4 linked regions of the Homo sapiens genome follow. The protein of the gene in region 3 interacts with the protein of the main gene of each other region in a pairwise test. Each region holds a gene or a part of one and is shown on either strand. Other genes may lie near its edges. The genes, in order: HNRNPUL1, GABPB2, SNRPB2 and MCM6.

Region 1 (4,994 bases), on a different chromosome or scaffold from region 3:
AAAATACAAATATTAACCGGATCTGGTGGTGTGCGCCTGTAGTCCCAGCTACTCGGGAGGCTGAGGCAGGAGAATCGCTTGAACTTGGGAGGGGGAGGTTGCAGTCAGCCGAGATTACGCCATTGCACTCCAGCCTGGGCAACAAAAGTGAAACTCCGTCTCAAAAAAGAAAAAAGCAGCTTTCTTTCTCTTTTTTTTAAATACAGATGGGGGGTCTCGCTATGTTGCCCAGGGTGGTCTTGAACTCCTGGGTTCAGGTGATCTCACCTCGGCCTCCTGAAGTGCTGGGATTACAGGCGTGAATCACTGCACCAGGCCTCAGGGCAGCTTTCTAGTAGGACTGGGAAATGGGGGGACTGGAAAGGTTAAGGAGTAAGTAGAAGGGATTCTGGCGTAAGAGTTTGTGGAGTTTTTCTGAAAAGAGGGCACCCTGGGACTTGGGGCTAAGGGGATAAGGAGAGAAATGAGGTAACAGAAGAGACAGGATTTGGGGTTGGAATTGGATACTTGTTCATAAGAGAATTTCCCGGAGGGAGGAGTGTGGATTTGGGGTAGGCAGTGGCCTAGAGATTATCGAGGACCCAGGTGCTGGAAAGAGGACTTCCCATTGCAGAGACTTGTGAAGAAAGGAGTGGGCCTGTGTGTGTGTCTAGAGCAGGAGGGATCGTGGCAGGAATGCCTAGCAAGAAAGGGTAGTGGGTTAGTAGTGACCTGGTGGTCTGGGCAGAGAGTCATCTCTGAGAGGAAAGCGAATTAGGTGCTTTGGAGCGTAGACTCTAGACTAAGACAGACTTCGTTTCAAATCTGGCTTAAAGATATTGGCAAGTCACTTCACCTCTGTGGGCCTGGTTTCCTTAATGTGTAAAATGGGGTTAATCAACAAATAGTGTGTTCACAGCCCCTCCAACCCCTGAGGGGTGTTATGAATGAGATCACATGTGAAGGGCTTATCACTGGGCCTGCCTTTTATGAGAAGAGGGATGTTTTAGAGAATGGAGAAGGACCCTAGAATTATAGCTTCTCCAGGAGGGGCTGCCTCTGTGAACACAGGAGAGAGATGCTGGGGAAAAGAGGCTTTGTGGGAAGAGGAGCATTGTGCTTGGAGCCTGGAAGCAGCAGAATAGTTTGAAAGGGCCCCATATTCCAATTAAGGAGATAATGCTATTTCTTCCTCTCTCCCTTACTTGCTACAACAAAGTCCTTTGAGCCCCCTTCATGCCTCCCTTAAGCCCTCCTTCAACCTTGGTAAACAGACCGGTAGCAAACCACATGACCTGTGACTTTCCTCCCTTTGGGCTGCACCTGGTTTGTGCCCAGATGTATTTATCCTCTGAGAAGGAATCCGATCAGTTAGCAAGTGGCAGAATAGTCTCTCCTTCCCTTTGGTTCTGGCTCACGGCTCCTGGCATAGCCACTGGTAGGGCCCTTGGGGCCCTAACTGAGAGCTAGCCCCTGGGGAGGAGAGCCTGTATGCTGCCCATCCTAGCTTTCTAAAGTTCTCTCTGGGTTTGGCTGCAAGGTTCTTGAGGGAATTTCTGGTTTTAGTTCCACCTCTGAGCTTTCACACGTGTTATCCCAACCCCAGTAACATTCTCCATTCTCATCACTGAGTCATTACCTGTGTATCCTTTGAATCAAGGCTTATCTGTTATTTTCCAGGTCCCTTTCTTCATTCCTGGTACTACTTTGTAGCCTTCAACACAATCATATTAAATTTTTGTGTGTCTTTAAGATTTGTCTGTCTCACTAAACTGAAGGCTTCAGTGGGGCAAGCTTGTCTTCAGCTGTATCCCAGGCTCTGGAGTATAGTATGCATGCCATGAATAGTTAATATTATTATTCTTACCACTCTTAGTTGAGCTCCTGGACCTGCAGATGCCTTCTGGATGCTTTGGTCCAGGGTTCTTCATGAACCGCCCCTCTAATTGGCCATTTTTAATTTTGTTTTAAGATGCCATGGACAATATTACCAGGCAGAACCAATTCTACGATACCCAAGTCATCAAACAAGAAAACGAGTCAGGCTACGAGAGGAGACCACTGGAAATGGAGCAGCAGCAGGCCTATCGTCCAGGTAGGAAAATACACATGGTTCATCTCTTTGGATGGAAACAATCTACATGGAGCCTTTACCCCCTGCTTAGAGCGGGTCTTCCCAGAGAAACTGTGCATCTTTTTTCTTGGGCAGTTCATCTAAACATTGTCACTCTGGCAAGAATTGTTTAAAGGAAAGATCTCAGTCCTATTTCCAAGTGTTGGGAGAGGGGAGGTTCCATGGTATCTGTAAAAAAGTGATGTTAGTATCAGCCGGGTGTGGTGGCTCCCTCCTGTAATCCCAGCACTTTGGGAGGCCGAGGCAGGTGGATCACCTGAGGTCTGGAGTTCGAGACCAGCCTGGCCAATATGGTGAAACCCGTCTCTACTAAAAATACAAAAATTAGCCAGGCATGGTGGCAGGCACCTGTAATCCCAGCTACTTGGGAGGCTGAGGCAGGAGAATCACTTGAACCCAGGAGGCGGAGGTTGCAGTGAGCCGAGATCGCGTCATTGCACTTCACTCAGTCTGGGCAACAAGAGTGAAACTGCATCTCAAAAAAAAAAAGATGTTAGTATAAGCACCCTGGAGAGTTGAGACCCCTAGACTAATACTTGAATCTTATTTAGAATCTTAGAATGGGGGAGCCAGAAAGAGCCTTCTAAGTCTAATCTGGTATTTCTCATGTTCTGAAGATTATTGTTTCAGGGGATATTATTAGGGGATTCTCAGAAAAGGGTTCCTTAGCCAAATGTGTCTGGAAACTGTAGCATGTGCTATATCGTCTCTTGGAAATTCACTGTGCTTGTTAGAACATTAAAGGCTCTGAGAAGTCCAGAATTTAAAAAAAAAAAAAGAAAGTGTGTGTCAGGCCTCAGGCCAGGTGCGCTGGCTCATACCTATAATTCCAACACTTTGGGAGGCCAAGGTAGTAGGATCATTTGAGACCAGGAGTTCCAGACCAGACTGGGCAACATAGTGAGACCCCTTCTCTACAAAAAATTTAAAAATTAGCCAGGCATGGCTATGACTGACTACATGCACACACCTATAGTTAAAGCTACTCAGGAGACAAAGGTAGGAGGATCACTTGAGCCCAGGAGTTTGAGGCTGCTGTGAGCTATGATTACACTACTACACTCCAGCCTGGGTGACAGTGCAAGACCCTGTCACGAAAAAAAAAAAAAAAAAAAAAAACCTAAAATTAAAAGTAGGTTAGAACACAGTGGCTCATGCTTGTAATCCTAGCGCTTTAGGAGGCCAAGTCAGGAGGATCACTTGAGCCTAGGAATCCAAGACTAGCCTGGCAACATAGTGAGACCCCTGTTGTCTTTAGAAAAAATTAAAAATTGCCTGAGCATGGTGACATGCTTGTAGTCCCAGCTACTCAGAAGACTGAGTCAGGAGGATCACTTGAGCCCAGGAGTTCAAGGCTGCAGTAAGCTATGATCGTGCACGGCACTGCAGCCTGGGCGACAGGAAGACCTTGCCTTAAAAATAAAAACAGGCCGAGTGCGATGGCTGTTACATGCCTGTAATCCCAACACTTTGGGAGGCTGAGGTGGGAGGATTGCTTGAGTCCAGGAGTTCAAGACCAGCCTGGGCAACATAACCCTGTCTCTATAAAAAATAAAAATATTACCTGAGCATGGTTGCACAATCCTATAGCCCCAGCTACTCTTTTTTTTTTTTTGAGACGAAGTCTCGCTCTTGTTCCCCAGGCTGGAGGGCGATGGCGCGATCTCAGCTCACTGCAACCTCCGCCTCTCGGGTTCAAGCGATTCTCCTGCCTCAGCCTCCCAAGTAGCTGAGATTTCAGGCGCCTGCCACCACACCTGGCTAATTTTTGTATTTTCAGTAGTGACGGGGTTTTACCATGTTGGCCAGGCTGGTCTCAAACTCTTGACCTCAGGTGATCCGCCCGCCTCAGCCTCCCAAAGTTCTGGGGTTACAGGCGTGAGCCACTGAACCCGGCCAAGTCCCACCTACTCTGGACCCTGAGGTGGGAGGATCACTTGAGCTAGGAAGTTGAGGCTCCATGAGCCATGATGGCAGCACTGCATTCCAGCCTGGGCAACAGTAAGCCTCTGTCTCCAAAAAAATTTTTTTTTTAATTAAATTTAAAAACCTTGTGTCTTCTTGGGCTGGTGTTGCTGAAAATATTTTTTTTAATAAAAAAATAGACAAAAAACCTTGTGTTGTATCGTTTAAACTTAGGATTTCCCAATCATGTTAAGTATATGTCTTTACAGAACAAAGTTCCCCATGATGCCAACTCTCCCTTCCCTTTTTTTTTTTTTTTTTTTTGAGATGGAGTCTCGCTCTGTTGCCCAGGCTGGAGTACAATGGTGTGATCTTGGCTCACTGCAACCTCTGCCTCCCAGGTTCAAGTGATTCTCCTGCCTCAGCCTCCTAAGTAGTTGGGACTACGGGCGTGCCACCACACCCAGCTAATTTTTTGTGTGTTTTTAGTAGATGTGGGGTTTCACCATGTTGGCCAGGATGGTCTCAATCTCCTGACCTCATGATCTGCCTGCCTCGGCCTCCCAGAGTGCTGGGATTACAGGTGTAAGCCACTGCGCCTGGCCTCTCCTCCCCATTTTATAGATTGAGGAGTTGGCTTGTCCGATGGCAGAGCTGGGGCTACAACCTAGCATACTTGCTCCCAGGCTAGTCCTCTTGGTTAATAAGCAGCATTCCTTATCATTTGTGCCTTACTATTTGGAAAGCAGGGTCCCACTATTGAGAACTGATGGAGCCCGGACTGACCCCCAGTTTTGTGCTGCTTTTACTGTGTTGTGGCCTCCCAGTGCCTTTTCTTAGTGTATCTGGTTGATTTTGTCTAACGCCATTCTGGTTCATCCACAAAGTTAAATCCCCAGACATTTCTTGTGGGTGGCTCAGAACTTTACTGAATGTAGGTTAAACCGCAGATTTGTGTCAGGCTCTGTGAGACTTG
Region 2 (4,994 bases), on a different chromosome or scaffold from region 3:
GCCTCAGCCTCCCAAAGTGCTGGGATTACAGGCGTGAGCCACCGTGCCCGGCCTTTATTTTTATTATTCTAAAGAAAATTATTATTTTTTGAGACTGAGTCTTGCTCTGTTGCCCAGGCTGGAGTGCAATGGTGTGATCTTGGCTCACTGCACCCTCAGCCTCCTGGGTTCAAGCGATTCTCCTGTCTCAGCCTTCTGAATAGCTAGGATTAGGTGGCACGTGCCACCATGCCCGGCTAATTTTTGTATTTTTAGTAGAGACAGGGTTTCACCATGTTGGTCAGGCTGGTCTTGAACTCCTGACCTTGTGATCCACCTGCCTCGGTTTCCCAAAGTGCTGGGATTACAGGCGTGAGCCACTGCGCCTGGCCTCTCTTTTTTTTTTAAAGCTGAGCCCAGCCATGGGTTTATACCCTCAAATACCTATGAGTGGCCGGGCGCGGCGGATCACAAGGTCAAGAGAACAAGACCATTCTGGCCAACATGGTGAAACCCTGTGTCTACTAAAAATACAAAAATTAGCTGGGCGTGGTGTTGCATGCCTGTAGTCCCAGCTACTCAGGAGGCTGAGGCAGAAGAATCACTTGAATCCGGGAGGTAGAGGCTGCAGTGAGCCGAGATTGCGCCACTGCACTCCAGCCTGGTGAGAGAGTGAGACTCCATCTCAAAAAAAAAAAAAAAAAAACCTATGAGTTGGATAAATTCCTCCCCTCCTGAGGTCCCAGGATAATGTGGGGCTCCTGGGCCTGTCAGAAAGTCAGAAAGTGACACTCTTTACTTACCACAGATCAGGAACCCTGTACAGGGACTTTAGACAAGGTATGAGGCCAGTTTTCCCAACGGGCTTTAATTGGCTTTGTAAGTCTTATGTGAGATTCCTTTTACGGAACAAAGTTCTTTCAAAGCCAATTTAAAAAGCCTATGTGAAAAATCATTATTCTTGCTGCACTTTATACAAATAATCAGACCAAGTGTAATCCCAGCACTTTGGGAGGCCCAGGAGGGCGGATCACGAGGTCAGGAGATTGAGACCATCCTGGCTAACACAGTGAAACCCCGTCTCTACTAAAAATACAAAAAATTAGCCGGGTGTGGTGGCAGGCACCTGTAGTCCCAGCTACTCGGGAGGCTGAGGCAGGAGAATGGCATGAACCCAGGAGGTGGAGCTTGCAGTGAGCCGAGATTGCGCCACTGCACTCCAGCCTGGGCGACAGAGTGAGACTCCATCTCAAAAAAAAAAAAAAAAATCAGACCAAGTTTAATAAAGCCAATCTATTTTACCATGATTTGCCTTTAGTAAAAATGGGAGACTGGCAAGGCACAGTGGCTCACACCTGTAATCCCAGCACTTTGGGAGGCTGAGGCGGGTGGATCACCTGAGGTCAGGTGTTCGAGACCAGCCTGGCCAACATGGTGAAAGCCCGTTTCTACTAAAAATACAAAAATTAGCCGGACGTGGTGGCATATGCCTGTAATCCCAGCTACTCCGGAGGCTGATGCAGGAGAATTGCTTGAACCCAGGAGGCAGAGCTTGCAGTGAACCAAGATTGTGCCACTGCACTCCAGCCTAGGTGACTGAATAAGACTCTGTCTCAAAAAATAAAAAAAATAAAAATTCTAGTCTCATCAGTTGTTTTTAAGTTTTTTTCTGCAACTTAGATTAACTCTGCTTATTCCTGTGAACCAACCAGTGATCTCTGGCTGCTGCTCACAAGAAACAAAAGGAATGGGTAATGTAAAAATCTGGATCAATATTCTAATTCTGGGCACATACTGGAATCAGCTAGTAACCCCAAATCAGCTTGGTTCCAACAGTTGCCCAGTTCATGGAAAACCTTCTTATTTAATTTACTTGGGATAGTTTTGCTTATTTTGCTTTACTGTTGAGGAGTATATTGCTGTTGTACTCTTTGTGTAGGAATGCAGGATAAGCTTACTGAATGTTTTCTTAAACTGAACACCTTTTAATCTTCCAGATATCACCTTTTGTTGGAGTTATGAATAGCTCTCACCATACTGATGCTTTCTGACTGAGCTCCTCTCTGAACCCTGAATACAAGAGACCCTAAGAGTCAGGCAGGAATATCATCGCCCCTATTCACCCTGAAAAAGTTACAGAAGATGGATCTTTATTTCTTTGTAACCCCTAGGATTAAGGGTTCTCTAATAAAAGGGATGGGAGAAATGTCAGAGGTGTTTGAACCAGAGCAACTCCATCTTGCATAGGAGTTGGGTGAAATAAGGCTGAGACCTACTGGGCTGCATTCCCATTAAGGCATTCTTTTTTTGTTTTGTTTTGTGTTTTTTTGGGTTTTTTTGGGGGGGGTTTTTTTGAGATGAAGTCTCGCTCTGTTGCCTAGGCTGGAGTCCAGTGGTGCAGTCTCAGCTCGCTGCAACTTCCGCCTCCCAGGTTGTAGCGATTCTCCTGTCCCAGTCTCCCACCTGGCTAAATTTTTTTTTTTTTTTTTTTTTTTTTTTGAGACAAAGTCTCGCTCTGTCGCCCAGGCTAGAGTGCAGTGGCACAATCTCGGCTCACTGCAAGCTCCGCCTCTTGGGTTCACGCCATTCTCCTGCCTCGGCCTCCCGAGTAGCTGGGACTACAGGCGCCCGCCACCATGCCCGGCTAATTTTTTGTATTTTTAGTAGAGATGGGGTTTCACCATGTTAGCCAGGATGGTCTCGATCTCCTGACCTCGTGATCTGCCCTCCTGGGCCTCCCAAAGTGCTGGGATTACAGGCATGAGCCACCGTGCCCGGCCAATTTTTTGTATTTTTAGTACAGATGGAGTTTCACCGTGTTAGCCAGGATGGTCTTGATCTCCTGACCTCTGCCCGCCTCAGCCTCCCAAAGAGCTGGGATTACAGGCATGAGCCACTGCGCCTGGCCCTTGTTTTGTTTTTTGAGACTGTCTCACTCTGTCGCCCAGACTGGAGTGCGGTGGCACGATCTCGGCTCGCCACAACCTCTGCCTCTAATGCTCAAGCAATTCTCCTGCCTCACCCTCCCGAGTAGCTGGAATTACAGGCGTGTGCCACTACTGCCTGGCTTATTTTTGTATTTTTAGTAGAGACAGGGTTTCACCATGTTGGCCAGGCTGGTCTTGAACTCCTGACCTCAAGTGATCCACCCACCTCGGCCTCCCAAAGTGGTGTGAGCCACTGTGCCCAGTCAGTTAAGGCATTCTTAGTTACAGGATGAGATAGGAGGTCAGCACGAGATACAGATCATAAAGACTTTGCTGATAAAACAGGCCATAGTAAAGAAGCTGGCTAAAACCCACCAAAAGCAAGATGGCGACAAGAGGACAAGAGTGACCTCTGGTTGTTCTCTCTGCTACACTCCCACCAGTGCCATGCCATGGCAGCTTACAAATGCCATGGCAATGTCAGGAAGTTACCCTATATGGTCTAAAAAGAGGAGGCTGCTGGGTGCGGTGGCTCACGCCTGTAATCCCAGCACTTTGGGAGGCTGAGGAGGGCGGCTCATGAGGTCAGGAGATCGAGACCATCCTGGCTAACGTGGTGAAACCCCGTCTCTACTAAAAATACAAAAAAAAAAAAAAATTAGCTGGGCATGGTGGCGGGGGCCTGCAGTCCCAGCTATTCGAGAGGCTGAGGCAGGATAATGGCGTGAACCCAGGAAGTGGAGCTTGCAGTGAGCCGTGATCACGCCACTGCACTCCAGCCTGGGCGACAGAGCGAGACTCCGTCTGGAAAAAAAAAAAAAAAAAGCGGAAGCATGTTTAGCATACAATCAAGAAATAACCAGCCGGGCGCGGTGGCTCACGCCTGTAATCCTAGCACTTTGGGAGGCTGAGGCGGGAGAATCACGAGGTCAGGAGATCGAGACCATCTTGGCTAACATGGTGAAACCCCGTCTCTACTAAAAATACAAAAAATTAGCCGGGCGCCGTGGCAGGTGACTGTAATTCCAGCTACTCAGGAGGCTGAGGCAGGAGAATGGCATGAACTAGGAAGCGGAGCTTGCAGCGAGCCGAGATAGCGCCACTGCAGTCCAGCCTGGGCGACAGAGCAAGACTCTCAAAAAAAAAAAAAAAAAAAGAAATAACCATAATAATACTGCCCATGGAGTAGCTATTCTTTTTTTCTTTACTTTCTTTTTTAGCCAGAGACTTGCTCTGTCACCAGGCTGGAGTACAGTGGCGCGATCTTGGCTCACTGCAAACTCTGCCTCCTGGGTACAAGTGATTCTCCTGCCTCAGCCTCCCAAGTAGCTGGGACTACAGATGCACGCCACCATGCCCAGCTAATTTTTGTATTTTTATTAGAGACGGGGTTTCACCATGTTGGCCAGGCTGGTCTTGAACTCCTGACCTTGTGATCTGCCCGCCTCAGCCTCCCAAAGTGCTGGGATTACGGGGATGAGCCACCGCGCCGGCCTTCCTTTACTTTCTCAAGCAACTTGCTTTCACTTAAAATAAAACAAAACAAAACAACAAAAAACAAACAAAAAACACAGCATTTTGAGGGGAACTATATGCCATTCTCCCAGTATCTTGTCCATGCTGGTTCTGGCAGGTGGTCAATACCTGCCTGGTGGCCCATCAACCAGACAAGAGATGAAGCCTGATACATCAGAAAACAGTCTAGGCACTTCTGACTCCTTGACTACAGACAACTAACATGTTCTCCCTTGCTGGCTGTACCTCCACTTTCCCTATACATAAACTGAGGAAACAAAATCTGTCTCACTTGCCTTCTAGGATTTTGGAGATGAATAAAATAAATCCCAGTGCTTTGGGAAGCCAAAGCAGGAGGATCAGTTGAAGCCAGGAATTTGATCCCAGCCGGGACAACACAGAGGGACTCTGTCTCTACAAAAATACAAAAATAAAAAAATTAGCAGGGTGTGGTGGCCCATACCTGTGGTCCTAGCTATTCAGGAGGCTAAGGCGGGAGGATAGCTTAAGCCCAGGAGTTCAAGGATGCGATGAGCTATGATCACTGCACTCCAGCCTGGGTGACTGAGCAAC
Region 3 (4,994 bases):
TTACCTGTAAGACAAGCATCTATCAAGTTTTTAACACCAATACAAACAGGAACTTTCTTGGTCTTTCTTACCTGGCCAGGCTTTTTGTTTGTGGTTGTTGCAGTCTGTTCCACAGTTTTGGCTTTTTTCTTTTCTTTTTTCTTTTCTTTGTCAGCAAAAGTTCCACGCATTTTTGATATTATATCCGAATCTGTTTTTGCATACTGTATTCGCTGTTTTAATTATTTGAAAACAGGTTACTTCTCATGCTGAAGGATGTTTACACTAGTCATTAATATTTCAAATTTCATTACGCAAATACACTACAAGCTAATTTTAAACATATCCCTAAGAAAATCTGTCAGAATATACTGAGTGCCAAATGGAAGTAAACTGTGGGCTATAATTCATAATTTAGACAAAGTTAGATTCAAGTGTGTTTATTAGATTAAAAAAACATATATTTTCATGTGAGAAACACAGGACTTTGAAATATCTGTACCACGGCTTCTCTCCATTTAATCAAAGAATAGAGAAAACTGCATTGAAGTGTTAAAGGAACAAATGAGTGGGCTCCACCAGCGGGCTTTGGAATCCTGAACTGTTCAAATCTCCTCAGTGCCTGAGGATCTGGCTCAAGATCAGCTATTCTAATCCAGAGGTATTCAACAAACAACATATAAAACAAACAAAAGCAAAACTGCTCAGCTTGACATAGAACTGTGGCTCCAGAGCCCACTGGAGGCCAAATGCCCTTTCCTCTCCAAACCTACCCTCACCCCACAGTCACAGAGGGAGCACCTAGGGATGCAATTTGAGGGAGCTGGTGAAAAATAAAGAAAATCGCCATTCTAGACTAATCCTGTTTTACAGATAGAATAGGCCCACAGAACACTAGGGCTGGTTTGGCAGAGTCCCCACAGAACAACTTTTCTGGCAGAAAACTAGATGGAAAATTTCTTTTAAACCATTTTTAATGAGTTTATTTGAATTTTTTTTCATTTTTTAGAATTCTAAACATCATAAATGTGAGGATTTAAATAAAACTTTTTTGCATCGTAACTTTTTGGATGTACAGCTCTGAGTTGTAACATTTGTAAAGATTAATGTATCTACCACCACAATCAGGACACAGGGCAGTTCTATCACCTAAAAATCCCCTCATGCTTCCCCTTTGTTACCCCACCCCTCCTCTTCCAAACACTCATCTGTTCTCTGTCCCTGCTGCCCTTTCCAGAATGTCACATAGATAGGATCATACATGATATAACCTGGAGGCTGCCTTCCTTTACTTGGCATAATGTCTTTGAGATTCATCTATGCCGTTGCTTTTAACAGCGAGTAGTATTTCATCGTATTGATGTACCAATTTGATTTACATCATTCAATGAAGGATACTTGGTTTGTTTACAGTTTTTGGCGATTAGGAATAAAGCTGCTATAAGCACGTGTGTTTAAAAAAACAGACACACACAGAACAAAAACAACAACAACAAAAATGCATTGGAGAGTTGCCTTCCCCTTACCAGTGACTCTCAATAGAAGCATTGACATGTGTCGCAGCTGTGGAATGTGTCATATGGAATGTTACTTCCAATAGTTAAAAGTACAGAAGACTGGGAATGACTTTCCTTTGAATCTATCACCTTTACATGAAATGACTTTAACAGTGGAATCAACTTACTAAATTTTAAAATGTTTTAAAAGGAAACAAAAGAATGGAATCACAGATAATGTGACTGGACCACTTGCATATGCCTTTCATGCTGGCACCAAGAGGCAACAGTTACAACAGGGAAGGGTTCAAAAACTTGTCCAAGATAGTATTTGATCAATTATAGTTTGCATTCCAAATGCCTGGAAAGTAGGTAAAAGCTCTGATGTAGTAGGTCTGGGCAAACCTGGGATTCTGCACTTGTAACAAGCACAAAGAAGATGGTAATGTTATTGGCATGGGGACCACATTTTGAGTAGCCCTGGCTTAAAGCATTATCACATAACTATACTCAGCGCCAATGAACTGTCTGAATATTTCTGCCATAAGTTAAACCGTTATCTAGGTAGGACTATCTGCAATCTCCAACCTCCATTTCAAGCAAACTCTTCCTCCTTGGAGCTGAAAGAATTATTGCCTCTCTGATCAAAATGCAATAATCCTACAAATTACTACTTTGTAGTAATCTGTACAAATTACTTTGTATACAATAGGTATGCAAAATTTTATTGCCTCGTATAACAAGAATTTGATCTTGATCTGAAGAGAACAAGAAACATTTTAAAGTAGTGTGGATTACAAAGCAAAGAATTTGTCAAAACCAAGATCAGTTCTTCCTCTTCCTTTACTTCAGCTAGAGATGACTACACTGGGGAAACAAGAGGGGAGGGAGTAGGCCTAAACCCACACCTCAGAATCCCAGGCTCTTTCTGGCTGGTCTGGGCTGCCGTACCACAGTGGCTCTAAGTGTGCTTATCCCTGCATGCAACTCTGCTAGTCTTGCCATCATCATCTAACCAAAAGGAGACAGGCTGAAGGGTTAGACTAACTTCTGACTTGGTCCTAAGGGTTCCCTCACAACTCCCTTGGCTCTGCAACCTCGTGCCTGACCTGAATAGATCTTCGGTGACCTGATTTGTCTGTCCTTATGACCTAGTCACCTGTGAAAACACCTGATCTCAGCAATAGCTCTTAGCTGGCTCATTTAAACCAGTGGTTCTCAACCAGAGGTGATTTTGTCTGTCAGAGCACAGCTAGCACTAGCTGGAGACATTACTCGTTGTTATGCTACTGGCATCCTGTGGGTAGAGGCCAGGGATGCTGTTAAACACGGGGTAATGAACAAGACAGCCCCCTGCAACAAAGACTCACTCATTTCAAAATGTCCAAAGTGACAGGGTTGAGAAACGCTAGTCTAGGCTAAATACCTATTAGAGATAAAAGTCTAACCACAACTTAGAGAAGGGCAAGATTTACACTTATGCCAAAGTTTTCATGACGAAGCCCTTAGGAAGACAGTTCTACTTTATTAAGGTACTTTTGGCATTAACTAAATGCCCTTGAATCAGAGAGAGTAATTCTGTTCTGAGTTCCAAGTTATAGCAAATTTTGTTCATTTCTGATCGGTATGTTGGAGTTAAAACAGAAGAGCAACTACAACCACAGTAAGACATAAACAAGACAGCCCAAAGAACTCTATTTCCCCTCTTCTAAGATGGAGATTTGGCAGTATCTGTTACCTTTCTGTAGGAAAAGAATAGACCTCCCAAAATGCTTCAATATAATAATCAATCTAATACACTTTCCCACTAATTTTAAAAAATAATTAGTTGGCAAGGTGAGGCTGGTGCCCAACACAGCAAACAATTTCCTTTCCTGTATCTGAGTAACAGACACATGCAAACTTGTCATCTCAACTCAGCAAAATAGCTCTAAACCCTCTATGGGAAGAAACTGTACTTTCAAGTTAATATAATTTTAGATGTAAGCTAAAACCCAGGCCCTATGCTGCTGCCAACTGAGATCTCAATTATGGTGTTTCTTTATACTACTATGAGAGACCGCCTGGTTTCAGGAAACACCAATATACTAAAAATTACATTACATAGGTACCATCCCACAGTTTCCTGGGATAGGCTTTTCCACAAAAATGGTGTCCAGTCAGCTGGGAAGTGATGGGAAAAGGAGAGCTGGATAGAGGATGAGAAGAACTTGCTCTAATAACAGAAAAAAAGGTGCTGAGGCTTGAATTAAGCATCATGGTATAAAACAGGGGTCCTCAAACTACTGTCTGTAGCCAACACTGCCTGTTCTCATCTGGGACTGCTCTTCCTGCTATAAAAGCAGAGTTGAGTAGTAGTTGCAACACAGATTATCTGGCTTGCAAAGTGTAACATATTTACTATCTGGTCCTTTACGGAAAGTTTGCTGACCTGTAATGCAGAAAAAAAATCACAATACTAGCTGTTAGATTAGTTGTCAACTCCTGAGGCTGCCACTGGTTATATTACTATAACCTAGATGAACAATTAAACTTTCTATGCCTGTTTCTTCATCTGCAAAATGAATGGGTTAGATCAGCGGTCTGTACCACAGTCTGTGAGCCAAACCCTGCCCACAGGCCTGCATTAGCATGGCCTACATGAATTTTCTTAGATAATGTTAAAGGGTTGTTAAAAAACGTAAGTACATAAAAGAACAGGTAACAGAAACCATATATGGCTTACAAAGCCTAAGGTATTATGTACTTCTTTACAGTTTTTGCTGATGCCTGCATTAGACCAAAGAACAACCAATTTGTTTACCGGAGGTGGTAAAACTAACCACGGGCACAGAGCCAGTTAATAGTACAACCAGAATGAAGACCCAGCTCCTCTAAACCCTGGCCCTTGGCTCTCTGTCCAACACTCCTTCACATCACATTCTAATCGCAGAAAAAAAGCAGTTTGGAATCCACACCTAAGATATGGTGTATTCACTCATACATAGAAACCCCTTGCTTCACACTCTGTGGTCACCCTTATCTGATCCTCTACCATCTCTGACTTACATCAAGGGCCTCCTAATTGAGTTTCCCACTTCCTTTCTGTCCCTCCCACAATGCGACCTTCATCCAGCAGCTAGATGTGAATCTCATTATGTCATTCCTGAGTTTAAAACTCTCCATTCATAACCATTTCATTTCCATTGTTATTCCTAAAACCTATGAGTTTAAACCTATCATTTTTCCTTAGATCACTGTTTCATCTAGACTGTGCAGCTTCTGACACATAGTATTTCACTACGACATATTCTAAAACTTCAGACTGAATTTCCTCTTTGACTCATGACTTTTGTTTCGTAATGTTTTACAAGTTTACAAACAGGTTTCTTTTCAAGTCTTCCAGGATATTATTAATTTCTAACTTTTTGAGATAAGACTATTGCCTAGACTGCCATTATTTTTTAAAATATTCTACATCTCAATGTATTTTGTTTTTGCCCATCTGAACTGTCATAAATTAAACTCTACCACTACTGT
Region 4 (4,994 bases), on a different chromosome or scaffold from region 3:
AACACTTTCTCCCATTCTTTCACAGTCATTTGGTTCTTAATGCTCTCAGCTGTCTGTTCCTCATCTCTGAGCTCTTTCCCCCCAAACTAATGGTAGAGAACAAAGGAAGAATCATTAGTATAGAAGCAGTCAAAAGAGCATAAAGGAGAAGAAACTTCATTACAAACACAACATAGCATGGGAAGTCAACCTCACAATTTATTGACTGTAAAGGTTTAAAAAAAAACAACTCCCCAAACTAGTAAGCCCTCAGTTAACAAAGACACTTAAGGGTATGTCATTTGTCCAGTGAGTTAAATAGAAAAAAAGCTACCTGAATGCTCAAGAGATAAGCGATAGCAGAATGTTAATCACTGACATAAAGATGCAAATAAAATAAGAGAATATTATGTTCACTCCCTTTTTCCAATACTGAACTATTTTCCAAACTCCCATTTATGACACAGAATCAAGTTAACTGAATGATACTGCCAGGGGTTCATCATTCTCAGAAGTTTACTTCCCAGATTACTAAATCTTTTTATTTGTATTTCCTCCAGAAGAATAACAGAGGAACTATGAAACTTTAAAACAAAAAACAGCGTGGATAATTTGTACCACTGCACTTAAAAGCATTGAGCTTTTATGTAAGACATCAAATAAGACTTTTTTTCAAGATCAGAAAGGCATACGTCAAAAGATTTGGTTTTAAAACTCATCAAATCTTAACCCCATCCCGTGCTCTCAACATTGATGAGACAGCCCAGATGTTTCAGAATCCTATCATTTCGTGGCAGCTCAGGGTAGGTGTTTCTTAAGCTGTCACTCTACTAAGACTCACTGTTGGCCTGCCTGGCCAACAGAGCAAGACCTCATCTCTAAAAAAGTTTTTTTAATTAGCTGGGTGCAGTGATTCACACCTATAATCCCAGCTACTCAGGAGGTTGAGATGGTAGGATCACTTGAGCCCAGAAAGTGGAGGCTACAGTGAGCCATGACTTTGCCATTGCACTCCAGCCTGGGTGACAGAGAGAGACTGTTTCAAAAACAAACAAAAACCCCCAAAACGACTGACCCTTGGGTTGGTTGGCGCAACACAGCAGGCAAGAAAGACCAGCCTATAAGAAAGGTCCCTAACACCAAGGGCCCGGAGTCCTCGAATGCCTTCTGTCTCATATCCATCAACACCACTGACACGGGAATTAGTTTCTGCACGTGCTCCTGAAACAGAATGATAGGTTGTTTCACAACTTAAATATTAAAGGTGCTGAACATCAAAATTGCTCAAATAAATGAAAGCTATAAATCCAAAGACTTCACTTAAGCCTTGAATACTTTCAGAATAGCACCATTTGTGGCAAAACCAATTTGTTTTTATTCTCATCACACTTCGTTCCTCAGCTTCTGATTGGTAGCCAAAAAGAAGACAATGAAGATGTGGGAAGCTAGATACTGTGCAGTTTAGGTAACTGAGAATTTGTTAAATTTGAGCCACAGATTACTGACCTGGTGTGCTAAGCTTGGAGACGTCAGGCACAACAATCAGTGTCCCTGTAAAGTCACACTTGTCACCAGCTTGAGCTGATTCCACAGCTTCAGCCCTTAAAATTACTTCTAAACTGCGGGGGATACTCCCTCGAGGAAGCTCAGCTTGGGTCTCTTGAATACGAACCTGTAATACAGACAAACAACCAACCAAGAATGAGAAGCAATACCTTTCAGATGCCATATAATCTAAATTAAATACCACAAATACGGACGTATTCTAAACTATCTGACCCATTAGCAGACTTTTCACATGTACCAACATTTATCCTAAAAATTATCTACTCTAAAACTCCTTTTAGTCAAATAGTTCAATTTGGCAAGAGATTACATCTATTTAAAAACTCCATGATGATTCAAGCAGCAGAGAAAAAAAAAACTTCACTTTTACTCATTAAAAAATAATTTTTTTCTTTGTTCAAAATGACTCCAAATATCTGTTCCATGCTCCATCTTCTCCTAAGCTTTAAGATAATTTTACAGAAAATTTCAAATACACCTTTTATACCCTCCACTTCAACACAACTGCTAACATTATTTACAGATACATGTTTTTTTACTATGTATTTGAACACAGTTGTGAACATCAAGAAACTTCATACCTAAATATTTTAGCATTCATCTCTAAGAATAAAGACAATCCTGTTACAATATCATTATCACAACCAAGATAATTAAACAATATTTAATTTCATAAAATTACATATCTTCTATTATCTAGTCCATCTTCAAATGTCTTGTCAAGAGTGTCCTTTATACAGTTGTGTTCCCCCCCCCAAACTAAGACCCAATCTAGATTCATACTTTATAAGATAAGACATCTCCTACCCAAAGCTGTTGGTAAAATATGTGCATCTTATAAGCTACCAGGTTAATGTAAGAAAGCCAAATAAGGAGAATGATTATCAGAGCAATATAAATAATATTAAATTCATCTGATAATAATTATTCCATACTTGAGCTGCTTCAGCTTTTCTTTCCATTTTGTATGTCCCATAAAATTAAGTCCTGCTGAAATCTGAGGGTCCCCTTCATTCTTACTACTGCCATCCATCACCTCTTGCCCAGGTAACTGAAATTGCCTATTACCCTCTGTTAAACCCATCACGGACTTATTCAGTTTGCTTTTAAAAAAAAACACACAGGCTGGGTGCAGTGGCTCACGCCTGTATCCCAGCACTTTGGGAGGCAGAGGCAGGCGGATCACGAAGTCAGGAGATCGAGACCATCCTGGTTTAACACGATGAAACCCTGTCTCTACTAAAAATACAAAAAATTAGCCGGGTGTGGTGGTGGGCACCTGTAGTCCCAGCTACTCGGGAGGCTGAGGCAGGAGAATGGCGTGAACCCAGGAGGCGGAGCTTGCAGTGAGCCGAGATCGCGCCACTGCACTCCAGCCTGGGTGACAGAGAGAGACTGTCTCAAAAAAAAACAAAAAACAAAACAAAACAAACACACACCCACACACACAAACTACCTTCCCACTATATTCCCACTGCTTATTAAGATAGGCTCAAACTCCTCAGCCTAAGATTTAGGGATCCAAGTACCTCCAGGTCTCACATCAAATCATCTCTCAGATGATCTCCAATTTGGCTCCTTTACTTCAATCATGATAATCCTCATTGCTTCCAAGCTAGCCTGTCCTATTCATGCTTTCCTTTCTATGCAGCAAATGGAAATCTTACACTAACAAGTTGCTATTTCTTTAAGTTTTCTTAACTCCAGTTCATAATGACAACCACCACCACCTAGTTACCATTTATTCTTTGACAAATACATCTTGTCAGTCTTAAGGAACTTCCAAGTTACTGAAAGTTAAAACAAATGTATATACTAACAATTATAATTTACATGAACAGTTTTGGGCTTAACTTTGTAGTCATTTTGATGATGCTTAACTTACATAAAAATTGAGTTGAACATTATCTAAATAAGCTATTGCAAGGGCCTAGAAGTGAATTATTATCATAGATGGACTCTGATCTAAACAGATGTTAAATAAATACCTTTTGAAAATCAACAAATCTTGATTTATTTGTATCCAGTAAGAATCTCCTCCTGTTGGCACAAACTGGATTTCGGCAGATGTTTGGCTGTGTGTATTTGAACTGCTGTTCTACATCCCTGATCACTGTCTGACAGTCCAAGCACAGAAAAGTTCCGCTCACAAGCTCTGGGTGAACTGGGTGAGTCCGCACCACCTGCCCACTGATGCGAGTGAGCAAACCAATTCTGGATGAGGTGAGCTCTCGAATCCTGTTTAAAGACAAATGTCCCATTAGTAAACATTCATCTCTTAACTAAGAATCTTTCCATTTTAGTGAGAGGGTATTCAAAGATAATTTATGTTTAAAAAAAAAATTCAAGAGACAAGGTATTCTTTGGACTCTCCTATAAGAATAATTTAGTCAACGTGCCCAATCCTAAATTATATGACGTATATGTATCCAGAACAAAATATATAAATGAACTAAAGGATGCCAAAAAAATGAAAATTAAAATTATAAAACAGAACGGGCTGGGCGCAGTGACTCACACCTGTAATCCCAGCACTTTGGGAGACCAAGGTGGGCGGATCATGAGGTCAAGAGATCAAGACCATCCTGGCCAACATGGCGAAACCCCACCTCTACTAAAAATACAAAAACTAGCCAGTCGTGGTGGCGGGCGCCTGTAATCCCAGCTACTCGGGGAGCCGAGGCAGGAGAATTGTTTGAACCCGGGAGGTGGAGGGTGCAGTGAGCCAAGATCGTGCCACTGCACTCTGGCCTGGGTGACAGAGCAAGACTCTGTCTCAGAAAAAAAAAAAAACAAAAACAGAATGATCCTGTTTTTGTTTTATATGCAAATACTTTTTTGCTTACCCGCAATTTCTAAAAAAAAAAGCATGTGTTACATAATAATCCTATCATGAGAAAAAATTTTGTACTCAAAGTTCAGAAACACTTCCTTTACAAACCCATTTTATGTGAAGTAATTTGGTAATTTTATAATTTCAGTAGTTTAACTTTTCAAAATATCACTTCAATTTTATCCAGTAAATTTATTCTTAAAATAACTGCCAAAGGGGTGTTTGAAAATTATGCATTTAAACCAACAAAAATTTCCAGAGATTCAGGAATTTCTAGAATTTCATATTTTCTCCCTTGATCAATTTTCTCCCAAATTTCCCTAAAAGGCGCCCTAAAATGTGATAATCCTAAAAATTTGCTTCACTCCCTTTACATCTAATCCCATCTCCATAGGAAAATACATTTCTCCAACACTAAACTTTCTGGATAAGTGGGTATAACTCCTACAAAAGTCAACCTTCTACAAAATCTGAATGCAAACCACTATTTTTTCCTCCTGGTATTTTACAGCATCAATTTTATAAGTACTTGTTTTATAATTATTGTGATTATCAATTATGAAAAAGTAATTTTACAGCAACAAACCTATTTTTTGCATGATTTAGGTAGAAAACC

What was found.
Region 1: the proteins of SNRPB2 (region 3) and HNRNPUL1 interact in a two-hybrid assay, tested with the Homo sapiens proteins (one large-scale study listed by BioGRID and IntAct).
Region 2: the proteins of SNRPB2 (region 3) and GABPB2 interact in binary tests that used the Homo sapiens proteins (3 or more experiments, as listed by UniProt).
Region 4: the proteins of SNRPB2 (region 3) and MCM6 interact in binary tests that used the Homo sapiens proteins (3 or more experiments, as listed by UniProt).

The regions. Positions count from the first base shown.
Region 1 is NC_000019.10:41,266,272-41,271,265, forward strand, and holds part of HNRNPUL1 (heterogeneous nuclear ribonucleoprotein U-like protein 1), read left to right. Parts: intron 1-1,951; coding exon 1,952-2,074; intron 2,075-4,994.
Region 2 is NC_000001.11:151,073,048-151,078,041, reverse strand, and holds part of GABPB2 (GA-binding protein subunit beta-2), read right to left. Parts: exon of another isoform or gene 4,885-4,994; intron 1-4,884. UniProt on the Homo sapiens protein: May function as transcription factor capable of interacting with purine rich repeats (GA repeats).
Region 3 is NC_000020.11:16,732,479-16,737,472, reverse strand, and holds part of SNRPB2 (U2 small nuclear ribonucleoprotein B''), read right to left. Parts: intron 213-4,994; coding exon 72-212; intron 1-71. UniProt on the Homo sapiens protein: Involved in pre-mRNA splicing as component of the spliceosome. Associated with sn-RNP U2, where it contributes to the binding of stem loop IV of U2 snRNA.
Region 4 is NC_000002.12:135,865,078-135,870,071, forward strand, and holds part of MCM6 (DNA replication licensing factor MCM6), read right to left. Parts: intron 3,784-4,994; coding exon 3,534-3,783; intron 1,652-3,533; coding exon 1,486-1,651; intron 1,201-1,485; coding exon 1,055-1,200; intron 87-1,054; coding exon 1-86. UniProt on the Homo sapiens protein: Acts as a component of the MCM2-7 complex (MCM complex) which is the replicative helicase essential for 'once per cell cycle' DNA replication initiation and elongation in eukaryotic cells.